Homo sapiens: one gene and its partners. The protein of the gene in region 1 purifies or fractionates together with the protein of each later gene. This does not show direct contact. Each region holds a gene or a part of one and is shown in the gene's direction. Other genes may lie near its edges.

Evidence for each region.
Region 2: the proteins of RC3H1 (region 1) and YBX3 purify together in Homo sapiens (affinity purification with mass spectrometry, with the first as the bait; 3 studies listed by BioGRID). This does not show direct contact.
Region 3: the proteins of RC3H1 (region 1) and KRT2 purify together in Homo sapiens (affinity purification with mass spectrometry, with the first as the bait; 2 studies listed by BioGRID). This does not show direct contact.
Region 4: the proteins of RC3H1 (region 1) and DHX30 purify together in Homo sapiens (affinity purification with mass spectrometry, with the first as the bait; 2 studies listed by BioGRID). This does not show direct contact.

Annotation. Positions count from the first base shown.
Region 1 is NC_000001.11:173,942,358-173,945,857, reverse strand, and holds part of RC3H1 (roquin-1), read left to right. Parts: intron 1-2,242; coding exon 2,243-2,416; intron 2,417-3,500. UniProt on the Homo sapiens protein: Post-transcriptional repressor of mRNAs containing a conserved stem loop motif, called constitutive decay element (CDE), which is often located in the 3'-UTR, as in HMGXB3, ICOS, IER3, NFKBID, NFKBIZ, PPP1R10, TNF, TNFRSF4 and in many more mRNAs.
Region 2 is NC_000012.12:10,713,324-10,716,823, reverse strand, and holds part of YBX3 (Y-box-binding protein 3), read left to right. Parts: intron 1-1,040; coding exon 1,041-1,130; intron 1,131-3,490; coding exon 3,491-3,500. UniProt on the Homo sapiens protein: Binds to the GM-CSF promoter. Seems to act as a repressor. Also binds to full-length mRNA and to short RNA sequences containing the consensus site 5'-UCCAUCA-3'. May have a role in translation repression.
Region 3 is NC_000012.12:52,649,412-52,653,410, reverse strand, and holds the start of KRT2 (keratin, type II cytoskeletal 2 epidermal), read left to right. Parts: upstream 1-1,199; 5' UTR 1,200-1,268; coding exon 1,269-1,853; intron 1,854-2,857; coding exon 2,858-3,072; intron 3,073-3,436; coding exon 3,437-3,497; intron 3,498-3,999.
Region 4 is NC_000003.12:47,834,138-47,837,637, forward strand, and holds part of DHX30 (ATP-dependent RNA helicase DHX30), read left to right. Parts: intron 1-3,500.

The DNA of each region.
Region 1 (3,500 bases):
TGTGCACCTGTAATCCCAGCTAATCAGGAGGCTGAGGCAGGAGAATCGTGTGAACCCAGGAAGCAGAGGTTGCAGTGAGCCAAGATTGCGCCATTGCACTCCAGCCCAGGCTACAGTGTGAGACTCCGTCTCAAAAAAAAAAACAGAACTTTGACTTAAAAAGTAAAACATAGTTCCGGTGTAATAAGAATAATAACACTTTTCATTTACGTAGTTCTGTACCATTTAAAAATCACTACCACTTATCTTATTTGACCCTTAGAATATCCCTGATATTTTAGGCAGGTGGTATTGTCCTCCTTTTTTGATTGAAGTATATGAGTTTCTCAGAAGTTGAAACACGAACCCAAGTCTTCATACTCCAGATTCAGTGTTCTTTCCATCATGCTGCCTGACACTTAGAAAAACAAAACTAAAGAATTTTTAAAATCTGGCTGGACGTGGTGGTTCATGCTTGTAATCCCAGCACTTTGGGAGGCCAGAGCAGATGGATTGCTTGAGCTCAGGAGTTTGAGACCAGCCTGGGCAACATGGCAAAATCCCTTCACTACAAAAAGTGCAAAAATTGGCCAGGCATGGTAGTGCACGCCTGTAGTCTCAGCTACTCAGGAGGCTGAAGGCAGGAGGATCACCTGAGCCCAGGGAGGTTGAGGCTGCAGTGAGCCCTGATGGTGCCACTGCACTCCAGCCTGAGTGACAGAGTGAGACTCTGTCTCAAAAAAAAAAAAAAAAGGAATTTTTAAAATCTTTTAAGTGCCACATAAGGAAGACTAGGTTTTGTTTATACATCATCCTTTACGTTGGAACATATTCTTTGAATATGGAAAACTGAAGACATTCTAATGATAAATATATTGTCCTTTCTGGAGGAAAAAATGGTACTGTTAGAACATTAGTCTGTCTTTCTACCATAATCTTTAATAATAAGTAAGCCATCACTTTAGGGGGGAAAAAAAGTTATAAGACAGACTTTCTTAGTAGACTTTCTTTTTAGGAAGACCAGTAGGAGATTGTTTTTGGAACATATAGCTGGCTTGTGCCCCTATGTACGCAATTAGATTTAGGAATTTTAAAAATCTATGTAATACTTAGATTTTGTCTGCTTTCGCCATTGCTTATTTACATTGATTCAGAACGTCTTGCCGATTCCTGTCATAGAAACAGAATGCCATGTTTGCTTATGGCAATCTTTCGTTCATTAACTTTTTAAAGATTCAGACCTTCAACCCAATAAGGCATTACTCCATATCTTCAAATGCATGGTTTTTTGTTTGTTTGTTTGTTTGTTTTATATACTTTAAGTTCTAGGGTACATGTGCACAACGTGCAGGTTTGTTACATGTGGTATACATGTGCCATGTTGGTGTGCTGCACCCATTAACTCGTCATTTACATTAGGTATATCTCCTAATGCTATCCCTCCGCTTTCCCCCCACCACATGCATGATTTTTTGTTTTAAAGTTTCCAGGAGCATTTTCTGTCCAAAAAGACTATCAGTATTATTTAGAAACTTGCCACATATTTAACTCAGTACAGTTAAAAGTCCTTGCCATTACTGAGGTTTCATTGAAATAAGTTATAGGATTTACTTCAGAGAAAATTACCATTAAAAACAGAGGGGGAAAGATGCACATCTGTAGTTGACTTGTTTTTCTTCCATTTCCTTTTTTTTTTTTTTTTTTGAGAGACAAAGTCTCACTCTGTTGCCCAGGCTGGAGTGCATGGAGTGCAGTGGCATGATCATAGCAGCTCGCTGTAATCTTAAACTCCTGGGCTCAAGTGATCCTCCCTAGTAGCTAGGACTACGGGCCCACACCACCATCCCAGGCTAATTTTTTGGTTTTTTTATTTTTTATTTTTTGTAGAGGCGAGGTCTTGATATATTGCCCAGGTGGATCTCAAATTCCTGGCCTCAAGTGATCCTCCCACCTCAGCTTCCCAAAGTGCTAGAATTAAAGGCACAAGCCACCATGCGTAGCCAACTTCTCTTTCAAATCAGAAAATACAAGGAGCAATTTATACATAAGATGAAATTACTGTTTACTAAATTTAAATGTCCCTATTTTGTTATTTTTTTGTTTGAATGGTACTCAAAGAGAACAGCACCTTACAGTTGCATTATTTTGTTGCAAATGGCTGGGTGATAAGCTACTCAAGGCTGTGGTCTGGAATTGAGCCTGGTTATTCTGTGCATGGTGTGAAGTGTGTTGAGTTTTCTGTGTGCTTGGCTTTATGCACTAGGCTGTTAGTAACAGGCTGGTGTTGCAGAGGGAGGCAAACACCCTGGCAGGCCAGTCACAGCCCCCACCACCGCCACCTCCAAAATGGCCTGGGATGATCTCAAGTGAGCAGTTGAGCTTGGAACTGCACCAGGTGGAAAGGGAAATCGGGAAGAGAACACGGGAACTGAGTATGGTGAGTGTTATGGTGGGGAAAGAGAGGGAAGGTGAAATGAAATCTTTCATGTGGCTCTAGAATTATCTAGAGGCACAGAATCATCACTTCAAGGCACTCTGATGAGTGGTTAATATTTAAAATAATTCTCATGCAGGTGGGCTACCTTCCGATTTTATCATTCCCTTCCTCATTCTCTTGGTTTGGGTGTGTTCTTTGTCTTATAATTCTTCGTTAACTTTTAGGGAAAACAAGGTTTTAATGCTTCTGTAATTTAAGAACTTAATGGAAGTCTTAAATTTCTGTTTAGCATACTGATTAGGGAAGCAAATAGGATGGTGTTTACTATTTTGCAATGACAACATGTTATATAAAGATGTATTCACCAAATAACATTCTAGTTTCATAGCCTTTATAATGATGACCTATTTTTGCTATGAGTGATATGCAATCTGCACATTGTTTCCTGTATCCATTATGTATGCTTAGGAAAAACTATATCCATTAATATGCTTAGGATTTGCTTCATAGTGCACAGACATTCATTTTAGTAAATTTTGAATCTTAGGGGCTTCCTCAGGTTGCATGATATGATTTTTTTTGTTGCTTAGTTTTCATAATCTTTCTTTTTTTTTTTGAGGCGGAGTCTCTGTCGCCCAGGCTGGAGTGCAGTGGTGCGATCTCGGCTCATTGCAAGCTCTGCCTCCCGGGTTCACGCCATTCTCCTACCTCAGCCTCCCAAGTAGCTGGGACTAGGCGCCTGCCACCTCGCCTGGCTAATTTTTTGTATTTTTAGTAGAGACGGGGTTTCACCGTGTTAGCCAGGATGGTCTCGATCTCCTGACCTCGTGATCCGCCCGCCTCAGCCTCCCAAAGTGCTGGGATTACAGGTGTGAGCCACCACGCCCAGCCAGTTTTCATAATCTTTCTAAGCAAATAAATTGAGCATGCAGGTTTTTTTTGCTTTCAGTAAGTATGTTAAAGATATTTATTGTACTTTGGTTTTCTTTTCTTTTTTTTTTTTTTTTTTTTTTGAGACTGAGTCTCTGTCACCCAGGGTGGAGGGCAGTGGCCCAACCTCAGCTCACTGCAACCTCCGCCTCCC
Region 2 (3,500 bases), on another chromosome or scaffold:
GTTTTTGGAATGGCTGAATGTTCATGCTGCGTGCCTGTCCTGAACTGCCTTTTTTCCTCTATGGGTGAGGTCTCTGCTCTGTTGGCTCACTATTTCTTTTCCCTCCTACTCAGAGTTAGGGGACGGGCTGGATTACACATGCTTAATCGCTTTATAAAATAAGGTTGACCTAGTTCCATAGAAACGCAAGCCCCTTTAACTGTTTAGAGATACCAGCCAAAGAAATGGAAATGCATGGCAGGAATTATTTTCTGCCTTCATTGATGGAACAAGAGAGAGCAGCACCTATTCATAAGCAGATATTTAGGTGTAGATGTTTAATGAAGAATAGCATCTTCACTAACCTTTTAATGTATTATCAGGGAATGTAGGATTTGTTGACATGAATTGTGTGATGGGAGAAAAGTTGAATAAATATCATATAGGTAGAGTACAGGGATATGAATTCCCCCTCCTCCACTTCCCCCATCATCCCTGGGGCTGTTACGGTTGTGACTTCAGATAAATCACTTTAACTGTTAGCCTCGTGTTAACTCATCTGCAAAATGGGAGGAGAGGGGGGAGGCCAGATTATTACTAATACGTTCTGATTCTTGAGATAATTTTGTTTACTCGTCAGAAATATTTATCCCCTTGGCATTTTAATTTGTTTTTCTTTATCACTGCCTCCTTTCCTCCTCCGGAGATTCAGAGAATCTCTGAAGCTTAATGGTTTGAGGTAATTAATACATCTGATATGATCAGGTGATCAGCCTGTAACAGTAGTGTGTAGTCACTGCACACACTGCAGTTATAGAAAAAACATGTTCTGTTTAATCCACCTGTCAAGATGAATAGCACAAATCAAGGAAGTAATGTGGAATATAGTTTTATAGTGCTTTCTTGTTGTTGTGTTGGAGATCCAACTTAGTGGGAGAATGGTGGAAAAATAAGAATCGGTCAACAGTTTCTTCAAGTTCACTCTGGTGTACTTGAAAGCAGTGAAATCTGTGGCCAATATTGAAATATACATCGAATAAAATTTTCTGTTCTCTTTCCAGACTGCCATCAAGAAGAATAACCCACGGAAATATCTGCGCAGTGTAGGAGATGGAGAAACTGTAGAGTTTGATGTGGTTGAAGGAGAGAAGGTGAGAGGAAATTGTGGTTGGGTATCAAAGTGCTGGCACATAGTACTGTTGCACAATAAATTATCTATCAGCCCCTTATGAATTGACATGACTTTGGAATTTTTGTACAATAGCAGGAAGTGACTTTTAAACAGAATTTTTTTTTTTTTTAAGATGGGGTCTCCCTCTTGCCCAGGCTGGAGTGCAGTGGCGCGATCTTGGTTCACTGCAACTTCCACCATCCAGGTTCAAGTGATTCCTCTGCCTCAGTCTCCCTAATAGCTGGGATTACAGGCATCCACCACCACGCCCGGCTAATTTTTGTATTTTTAGTAGAGACGGGGTTTCACCATGTTGGCCAGGCTGGTCTTGAAACTCCTGACCTTAGGTGATCCACCTGTGTCAGCCTCCCAAAGTACTGGGATTACAGGTGTGAGCCACCACACCCAGCTAGCAGAAATATTTTTGACATTGTCATTATAAACATTCTGCAATAAAGATACTTTAATTTCTTATTTAATAAATGATCAACTCTGATTATGGAAAGAAAAGCTGATTTCTCAATTTAAAAATAATTTATATTTTTATACCAAAGGTATGTATTTCGAAATGCAGATTAAAATTTAACTATCTTATGTATTAACAATATATTAAAAGTGCTTTGCAGCTGGGCGTGGTGGCCCACACCTGTAATCCCAGTACTTTGGGAGGCTGAGGCAGGCGGATCTCCTGAGGTCAGGAGTTCAAGACCAGCCTGGCCAACATGGTGAAACCCGTCTCTACTAAAATTACAAAAATATCTGAGTGTGGTCGCACTCCTGTAATTCCGGCTACTCAGGAGGCTGAGGCAGGAGAATCGTTTGAACCTGGGAGGTGGAGTTTGCAGTGAACTGAGACATTGCACTCCAGCCTGGGGGACAGAGCAAGATTCCGTTTTTTAAAAAAAAAAAAAGAAAAGAAAAACTGCTTTGGGGCAAAAGATTTCTTTTATCAAAGTAAAGTTTTCAGGCTGACTTGTAAGCACTTCTACCTACAAATAATACATGGTAAAGAATATTTTAATCCCAATAAAAGGAGATCGAAATTGAATATTAATCATTTTGTTTTCTGTTTGGCTTGGATTTTGGGAAGCTGAAGGTACCCTGATAGACCCTAAGATAGCTTCGTCCGGGTGAACTGAATCCAAGAAGTTAAGGGATTTTCCTGAAGACTAGCTACAGAAGTTTTTAATACTGTTATATATTTAATTCCGTGTCTGTAATGCCCTTTATGCTTTGTGTTTAGTCTGTTATAGATACTAGTAAAACAATATTGAGTAAGATTAAAAACACGCTAAAACTACATATAGCACAACTGCCATGGCAGCTAATCATGGCAGCTGAATTATAAATTAACTGGATGAGAGGTTAACTCCCTGTATGTGCTCCTCCCATATACACATATACCATTCCATAGGTCATGTTCCTAATGGCTCTCAAACCATTGTGTTTTAAAAGAAAAACAATTTATTTCATTGGATGCAGAAATTTAAGTGATTATCTTTACCGGTGTGATCCCCAGGGTATCTTGTAAGTCTTTTAGATTTTCAAATCACTCACCAGCACCTGCCACTCTGTGAGGATCTCTGATATCCCATCCAATTTTTAAAAAATTGTTTTGGGTTGATTTTTCTTCTGTATGTTTTCAGAACTCAGGGTTTTACAAAGTGATGTAGGGTGTGAAATACACTCTCTGAAATCTTCTTGGTCTACATTTTTTTAACATTTTTGAAACATTTTCCATTTGTCCATATGAGAATAAGAATTCTAAATCTGTTTCAAGGATAATAGGAAAGGCTAAAGAAGGACTACATGTGTGGAGAATATTATTCATCAAAGACCCTTTCTTCTTGTTGCTGCCAAAATAGGAGAAGTTTCACTCAGTACCTTTGTGCTGGACAGAGAATCATATGAGCCCATGAATAGGGATTGTCCTCTTGGTACCTCCTAGACTAACATAGGTTTCAACACATTCTAGGAAAATAACAGTATCTCAAGTCTTTCCCATTGAGGAATATTCTTCCTGGTCTAGCATTGCTTCTACTTTGACAGTTGTATATTTGCTAATTTATGTTCTTTAAAGAGGTTACACATTGCTTTTGCGATTGACATTACTAGACAAGAAAGCAAAACTCAGGTTGTATGAGCAAACAAGCCATATATGTTTAAATCAGGATGTGAAGTACCTTGCTCACTTTGTTTAAAACCTAGATCTGTTTTTAAAATCACAGTGGGAATTCTTAGTATGTTCTGCCAGTCTTATACTCTAGCAGTCCAAGGCTGTTTTTTGAGTTAGTGTATATTCTTTTTAATTTTGAGGCCATCTTTTTATTTTCTTCTCAGGGTGCAGAAG
Region 3 (3,999 bases), on another chromosome or scaffold:
GGGAAAGGAAAAGGAATTATCTTTGTCTCACCCCAAACAATAATGATACTGACATTTTATTGTGCACGGTGGTTTTCAAAACACTTCATACGAATTTCCCATTTTATAGCTGGGACCACAGAGCCTCAGGGTTTCATTCAAGGCCTCACAGCCAATAAATAGCAAAACTGGGACTCAAACCCAGAATTTCTGACTAAATTCAGTTTTATTACTCCAAGAACCTCTCCCACATAGTTGGCCACATGGACAGAGGAAGTGGTTGAGTTTAAGTGTGAGTGCTCTGTGCAGGCTGGATGGTCTTCTTATCCTCAAGCATCTGTGGATGTCATTGAAGAGCCTGACTTCCTAATCACTTCCCAGGATCACCAGGCAATACGTGATTACTGACTGACTGAATCAATATACACTTGGATCTTGGTTTGCAAACTTTCACTTGGTGTCCCGCATCACACAGGTCCAGAAACAGCGAAACTTTTCTCATACCTCTCAACCTCTGGGTGTTCATGTAGACAAGGGACAGTTGATGGTTATACAAACCATCATGGTTATAAAAAATCTCTATTCGGTGCCTAGTTATTGTGTATTTTTGGTGTGGCATGGGAAGAAAAGAGCCAAGATATTTTGAAAATCGACACCTCTTTTGCAGTATCCGAGGCCAATTACTTTCTGTAAGAGGAGGTCGATTTCCAATTAGCATTTAAGGTCATTTAAGACCTTTGCAGTCTCCCCTGCACTAGTTGGGGCTCTTTCTGGGAAAGAGGGAAACTACAAGAGAACTACAAGGCTGGCATTGAGGGGCTCTTGCAGTCTCTAAACCCACCATCCCTTTCATTGTTGAACTGGGGTGGTGAGCCTGCACAAGCATGGGTGGTAGCTGACTTCCCTTGGGCAGGTCCAGAACAGGGAGCAGCATTCTGCAGAAGGTCCTTTTCCAGATTGAGAAACCCAAACCCTGATCTCCTCTTTTGATGATTTTACAAAAATCAAATTGCATGACAGATGCCCAGATAAACAGAAGTTTGCAATCAAAGCAAGTTCTGGGATGGAGCTGATTAGTAGATTTTTAATGGCTATTAGCTTGATAATCACGCACCAGGAATAGCTCCCAGGCAGACCAAACCCACGTATAAGTGGATCCACACCCATGTACACAACACCTAGTTGGCAGGTATATAAGGGGACCCTGAAAGCCTCCCAGCAGCACAGTTGAGTCTCCAGCCTTGACTCTTCTCAAGAGCCTGTGACTTTCCTCCCTGGACAAAGGCATCATGAGTTGTCAGATCTCTTGCAAATCTCGAGGAAGAGGAGGAGGTGGAGGAGGATTCCGGGGCTTCAGCAGCGGCTCAGCTGTGGTGTCTGGTGGAAGCCGGAGATCAACTTCCAGCTTCTCCTGCTTGAGCCGCCATGGTGGTGGTGGCGGGGGCTTCGGTGGAGGCGGCTTTGGCAGTCGGAGTCTTGTTGGCCTTGGAGGGACCAAGAGCATCTCCATTAGTGTGGCTGGAGGAGGTGGTGGCTTTGGCGCCGCTGGTGGATTTGGTGGCAGAGGAGGTGGTTTTGGAGGCGGCAGCAGCTTTGGAGGTGGCAGCGGCTTCAGTGGTGGTGGTTTCGGTGGAGGCGGCTTTGGTGGAGGCCGCTTTGGAGGTTTTGGGGGCCCTGGTGGTGTTGGAGGTTTAGGGGGTCCTGGTGGCTTTGGGCCTGGAGGATACCCTGGTGGCATCCACGAAGTCTCTGTCAACCAGAGCCTCCTGCAGCCTCTCAACGTGAAAGTTGACCCAGAGATCCAGAATGTGAAGGCCCAAGAGCGTGAGCAGATCAAAACTCTCAACAACAAATTTGCCTCCTTCATTGACAAGGTGACTCTGGAGAAGACGGCTCCCACTGATGCTCAGGCCACTTCACTTCCAGAGCCAACCAAAAAGAAAATGGCACAGATTTGTATTTCTTAGGAGCCAGTGGTGTACCGCAGTAGCCTGGGTCATTTGCGGTTTCCAGATGGAAAAGACGCCAGCTTTGTGGGTTACATTTCCCATAACAGCCTGCACTTAGGAAGCATTTGTCCCTTTGACCTTATTGTTACAGTCCATATAAATAATATTTATGGAAAATTCTGAAAACCATAAAAAATGGATATAGGCAAGTATTGAACTGATCCTTGGGACAGGCCACTGGAGCAGCAGGTTTTGGAAGCCATCGTCTTCTGAGATAGTGTTTCCTTCCTTAGCAGTGATTACTAAACTCTGGGAAGCTGAACCTGAAATATCTGCTTGGGAATGCAGGAAATTCCTGCCTTCAAGAGAAGCGTTCTCAGTTTTGTGATCCATAAAGTCTTTATTGGTGTCACTTCGGAGTGTTACTGGCTTTTCTCCTATTTCAAGGCAGACGAACCTGTCTTGGTTTATCTGCCTTGAAATAGGCAGGGATTTACAAGGCTCTTAAAAATCAGGCTGAGGAGCCCTGCCCTCTGGGACTCTCATACTCAGCACCCTTGCGAGCAGTGCCAGCAGATGGCTGCTTTCGGTTTTCCCCAGAATTTATGGGATCTTGGCTGGAAATTCAACCAGGATGCGGGGAGGGAAATGGTCTAGAGTATTGGGAGCAGCTGCAAACAAACCAGTGAGCAGTGAAGCAGCAAAGAGTCTCCTCTGCGTGGAGAGAGCCGGATGTAGCATTAGGAGTCTGTGGGACTTTCCAGGGGCGAAAGCAGGGAGCTCAGAAGCTCTGCCAGTCATGACTCGGCATCCAGCCTCAGACACTTCTCGAGGTCCTGAAGCAGCACCTGAGCTGCCCCTGGCCAGCGTGGCTTGCTTGGTGTGAAGGATGATCTAGAACTCATGTGCTCTCCTTCTGGTCATGGCAGGTGCGGTTCTTGGAGCAGCAGAACCAGGTGTTACAGACCAAATGGGAGCTGCTACAACAAATGAATGTTGGCACCCGCCCCATCAACCTGGAGCCCATCTTCCAGGGGTATATCGACAGCCTCAAGAGATATCTGGATGGGCTCACTGCAGAAAGAACATCACAGAATTCAGAGCTGAATAACATGCAGGATCTTGTGGAGGATTATAAGAAGAAGTAGGTGGCAGAGTGAAACGCTGAGTGGAGATAAACATTGCACTGAGCCATTTGATCACTCCCTGGAAAGCCATTCATCTCCCAGTTGCATTTGTGGTGGTAATGGGGAGAGGCATATGTATCTTTGTTGATTATTTGTGAGGAAGACAGTGAGACTTTAGAGATCATTTTTGTCTTTTGTATGTTTGAGAGTTAGTTTATAAAAATATATCTTTAGTTTGGAAATCTTAGTTTCAATTTAGATATTTAAAAAGTGTGTAATATTCCCAGAGAATGGGGCATTTGGGGTGAATCCAGTATAAAAGGAAAAGAAAAAAAATGAAGGGGAACTAATCTAACTGCTGTAACATCTGTGTCCCAATAGGTATGAGGATGAAATCAATAAGCGCACAGCTGCTGAGAATGATTTTGTGACGCTTAAAAAGGTGAGCGAGAGAATGTCTTGGCTGGGGGTGGGGATAGGAGTGCTTCACAGCCCCATTGTGTCTAAGCAGCCAGTTTGGAAATCAACTGTGAGTGCAAAAGCAGCAGCCAGAGAAAGGAGTGAGACCCATGGCACATTCTCTTGCAAACAAAATTGTCTCTGTAGGTCAAGCTTCTGGATACAGTTTTCAAAGCTGTTCTGCATTTTTGGTAGAGTGCTTCCCAGTAGTAACCCACTTAAAGCCTCTACTGAATCATGATAAATGCAAACACAAAAATCTCTTTGTATTCTCCTTCTAAAGAGCTGAGGAAGGAATGGGACTTCCCTTAGAATGCCTGCTTAAAGTTGCTGTTGGTTGTGCTGACAAAGGTTTGAGGTTGTAGGCCAAAAGCAAGGGTTCTCCTGCTGGGTCCTGCAGGGCCTTTGGTGTATATTCTGGGGAAATTTCGGAGAGGTGAGATGGACAGACGGGATGAGAGAGCTGAGGACTGTGGAAACCCACA
Region 4 (3,500 bases), on another chromosome or scaffold:
CTGTTGCCCAGGCTAGAGTGCAGTGGCGTGATCTTGGCTCACTGCAACCTCCGCCTCCTAGGTCCAAGCAATTCTCATGTCTCAGCCTCCCGAGTAGCTGGGACTACGGGCATGTGCCACCACACCCAGCTAATTTTTGTATTTTTTGTAGAGATGGGGTTTCGCCATGGTGGCCAGGCTGGTCTTGAACTCCTGACCTGAAGTGATCTGCCCGCCTTGGCCTCTTGAAGTGCTGGGATTACAGGTGTGAGCCACTACTCCTGGCCCATGTGGTATTTTCTTTGTGTCTGGTTTACTTAGCATAATGTCTTCCAGGTTTATCCATGTTTTTACTTTTATTTATTTATTTTGAGACAGGGTCTTGCTCTGTGGCCTAGGCTGGAATGCAGTGGTGCGATCATGGCTCACTGCAGACTCCACCTCCAGGGCTCAAGAGATCCTCCCACCTCAACCTCTGGAGTAACTGAGACTGCAGGTGTGCGCCACCACACCTGGCTAATTTTGTAGAGATGGGGTCTTCCAGTGTTGCCCAGACTGGTCTTGAACTCCTGAGCTCAAGCAATCCACCTGTCTCAGCCTCCCAAAGTGCTGGGATTACAGGCATGAGCCACTGCACCTGGCCAGATCTCCTCTTCTTTAAAGGCTGAATAATATCCTGTTGTGTATATGTACCATTCATCCTTTGACAGATGCTTAGGTTGTTTCCGTATCTTGACTGTTGTGAATAATGCTGCAGTTAACATGGGAGTGCAGACATCCCTATGAGCTGATGATTTCATTCCCTTTGGGTATATACCCAGAGCAGATATTGCTGGACCATATGGTAGTTTTATTTTTAATTTTTTGAGGAACTTCTTTATTTTTTATTTTATTTTTTATTTTTTGAGATGGAGTCTTGCTCTGTTGCCCAGGCTAGAGTGCAGCAGCGCGATCTCGGCTTACTGCAGCCTCTGCCTCCTGGGTTCAAGCAATTCTCCTGCCTCAGCCTCCCGAGTGCCTGGGATTACAGGCATGTGCCATCATGCCTGGCTAATTTTTTTTTTTTTTTTTTTTGACATGGAGGTTCGCTCTTATTGCCCAGGCTGGAGTGCAGTGGCGCAATCTCAACTCACTGCAACCTCCGTCTCCTGGGTTCAAGCAGTTCTGTCTCAGCCTCCCGAGTAGCTGGGATTACAGGCATGTGCCACCACGCCTGGAATTTTGTATTTTTACTAGAGATGGGGTTTCTCCATGTTGGTCAGGCTGGTCTCGAACTCCTGACCTCAGGTGATCTGCCTGCCTCGGCTTCCCATAGTGCTGGGATTACAGGTGTGAGCCACTGTGCCCGGCCAATTTTTTTGTACTTTTAGTACAGATGGGGTTTCACCATGTTGGCTAGGCTGGTCTCGAACTCCTGACCTCAGGTGGTCCACCCGCCTCAGCCTCCCAAAGTTCTGGGATTACAGGTGTAAGCCACTGCGCCCGGCCAATTTTTTTGTACTTTTAGTAGAGATGGGGTTTCACCATGTTGGCTAGGCTGGTCTCAAACTCCTGACCTCAGGTGGTCCACCCGCCTCAGCCTCCCAAAGTTCTGGGATTATAGGCATGAGCCACTGTGCCTGGCTCTCTTTTGGGTTTTCTATATATAAGATATGTCATTTGTAAGCAGGGATAATTTTACTTCTTTCTTTCCAGTTTGGATGCCTTTTTTTCTTGTCTGCCTGCACTTTCTAGTACTTTTAGTACTATGTTGAAAAAAAGTGCTGAGAGTGGCCAGGGGCCATTTGGCAATGTCTGTAGGGATTTTCGTTGGACACAGGTGGAGGAGTGCTACTGGCAGCTGTAAGATCAAGGCCAGGAATGCTTCTTCCCAGCTTACAGTACACAGGACAGCCCCCTATAGCAAAGAATTACCCTGCTCAAAATAGCAATTATGCTGAAGCTGAGAAATCCTTCTCTGCCTGGCTGACTGGCTGGCTGGATGTTTGAAGGCACTTTAAACTCAGACTTTTGTTTTTTGAGATGGAGTCTTTCTCTTTCGCCCAGGCTAGAGTGCAATGGTGCAATGGCGTGATCTTGGCTCACTGTAACCTCTGTCTGCCTCCTGGATTTAAGTGATTCTCCTGCCTCAGCCTCCCTCATAGCTGGGATTACAGGTGCCTGCCACCACGCCTGGCCAATTTTTGTATTTCTAGTAGAGATGAGGTTCCACCATGTTGGCCAGGCTGGTCTCAAAGTCTCCTGACCTTAGGTGATCCGCCTGCCTCTGCCTCCGCCTCCCAAAGTGTTGGGATTACAGACATGAGCTACTGTGCCCGGCCATCCCAGCCTGTCTGAAGCAGGTCATTATCACATTTTTCTCCATCTCTTTTTCTCTTCCCCATCTATGTGTATAGTTTTGTTTTGTTTTGTTTTGTTTTGAGATGGTGTCTTGCTCTGTTGCCCAGGCTAGAGTGCAGTGGCGCAATCTCGGCTCACTGCAACGTTCACGTCCTGGGTTTAAGCGATTCTCCTGCCTCAGCCTCCCGAGTAGCTGGGACTACAGGTGCGCACCACCACGCCCAGCTAAGTTTTGTATTTTTAGTAGAGACAGGGTTTCACCATATTGGCCAGACTGGTCTTGAACTCCTGACCTCGCGATCTGCCTGCCTCCCAAAGTGCTGGGATTACAGGTGTGAGCCACCGTGCCCAGCCTAGTTGTTTTTGTTTTTTTGATCATAGCGATCCTAATGGGTGTGAGATGAGATCTTGTTGTGGTTATAGGAGTTGTTTTTTATTCTAGAACTCAGCCTTTTATTCTCTAATAGCTGTACTCCCAGTTCTTCAGCGTTTCCCTTTCCCCCCAAATCAGATGTCTTTTTCTGCATTGCCCATAGGCTTGGTGAGACGTGCTGGCAGCACAAAGGGGACTGAGTCAGCAGCCACAGCCAAGAAGAAGGTGTCCACGGGAGGACATAAATGCACCCCAGCCTCCTAAATAGAAGAGGCTTATTCTTGAAGAATGGTCCTTGCCAGGGCCGAGGGCTGGAGCAAGGCACTCCAGACTCAGGCCAATGTGGCTTAGAGCCCGGGTGAATATGCGTGGCTATGGGGAATGAGAATGAATGTGGGTCTGCCTGCTGGGCCATGCGGTAGACGGGCAGGGAGGAGCTAGAACTCCAGGGCCTTCACTGTCACAGGGGCAGAATGATTTGATCCTGTGGCTGCCAGGGCTTCTGACTAGTGGTAATTGATAGAATGACACAGCCAAGTTTGCTTTTAGGGAAAATCACTGACAGCAGTAGTTTTTGGCAAGACCAGAGACAGGGACACTGGATGGAAGAGAATACCAGCGGCAGCTGTGGAGGAGGTTTCTTCAACGGTATTAGAGGGCCAGGCATGAGGGCCTGTAATCCTAGCACTTTGGGAGGCTGAGGCGGGTGGATCACAAGGTCAGGAGCTCGAGAGCAGCCTGGCCGACATGGTGAAACCCCATCTCTACTAAAAATACAAAAATTAGCCGGGCCTGGTGGCGTACGCCT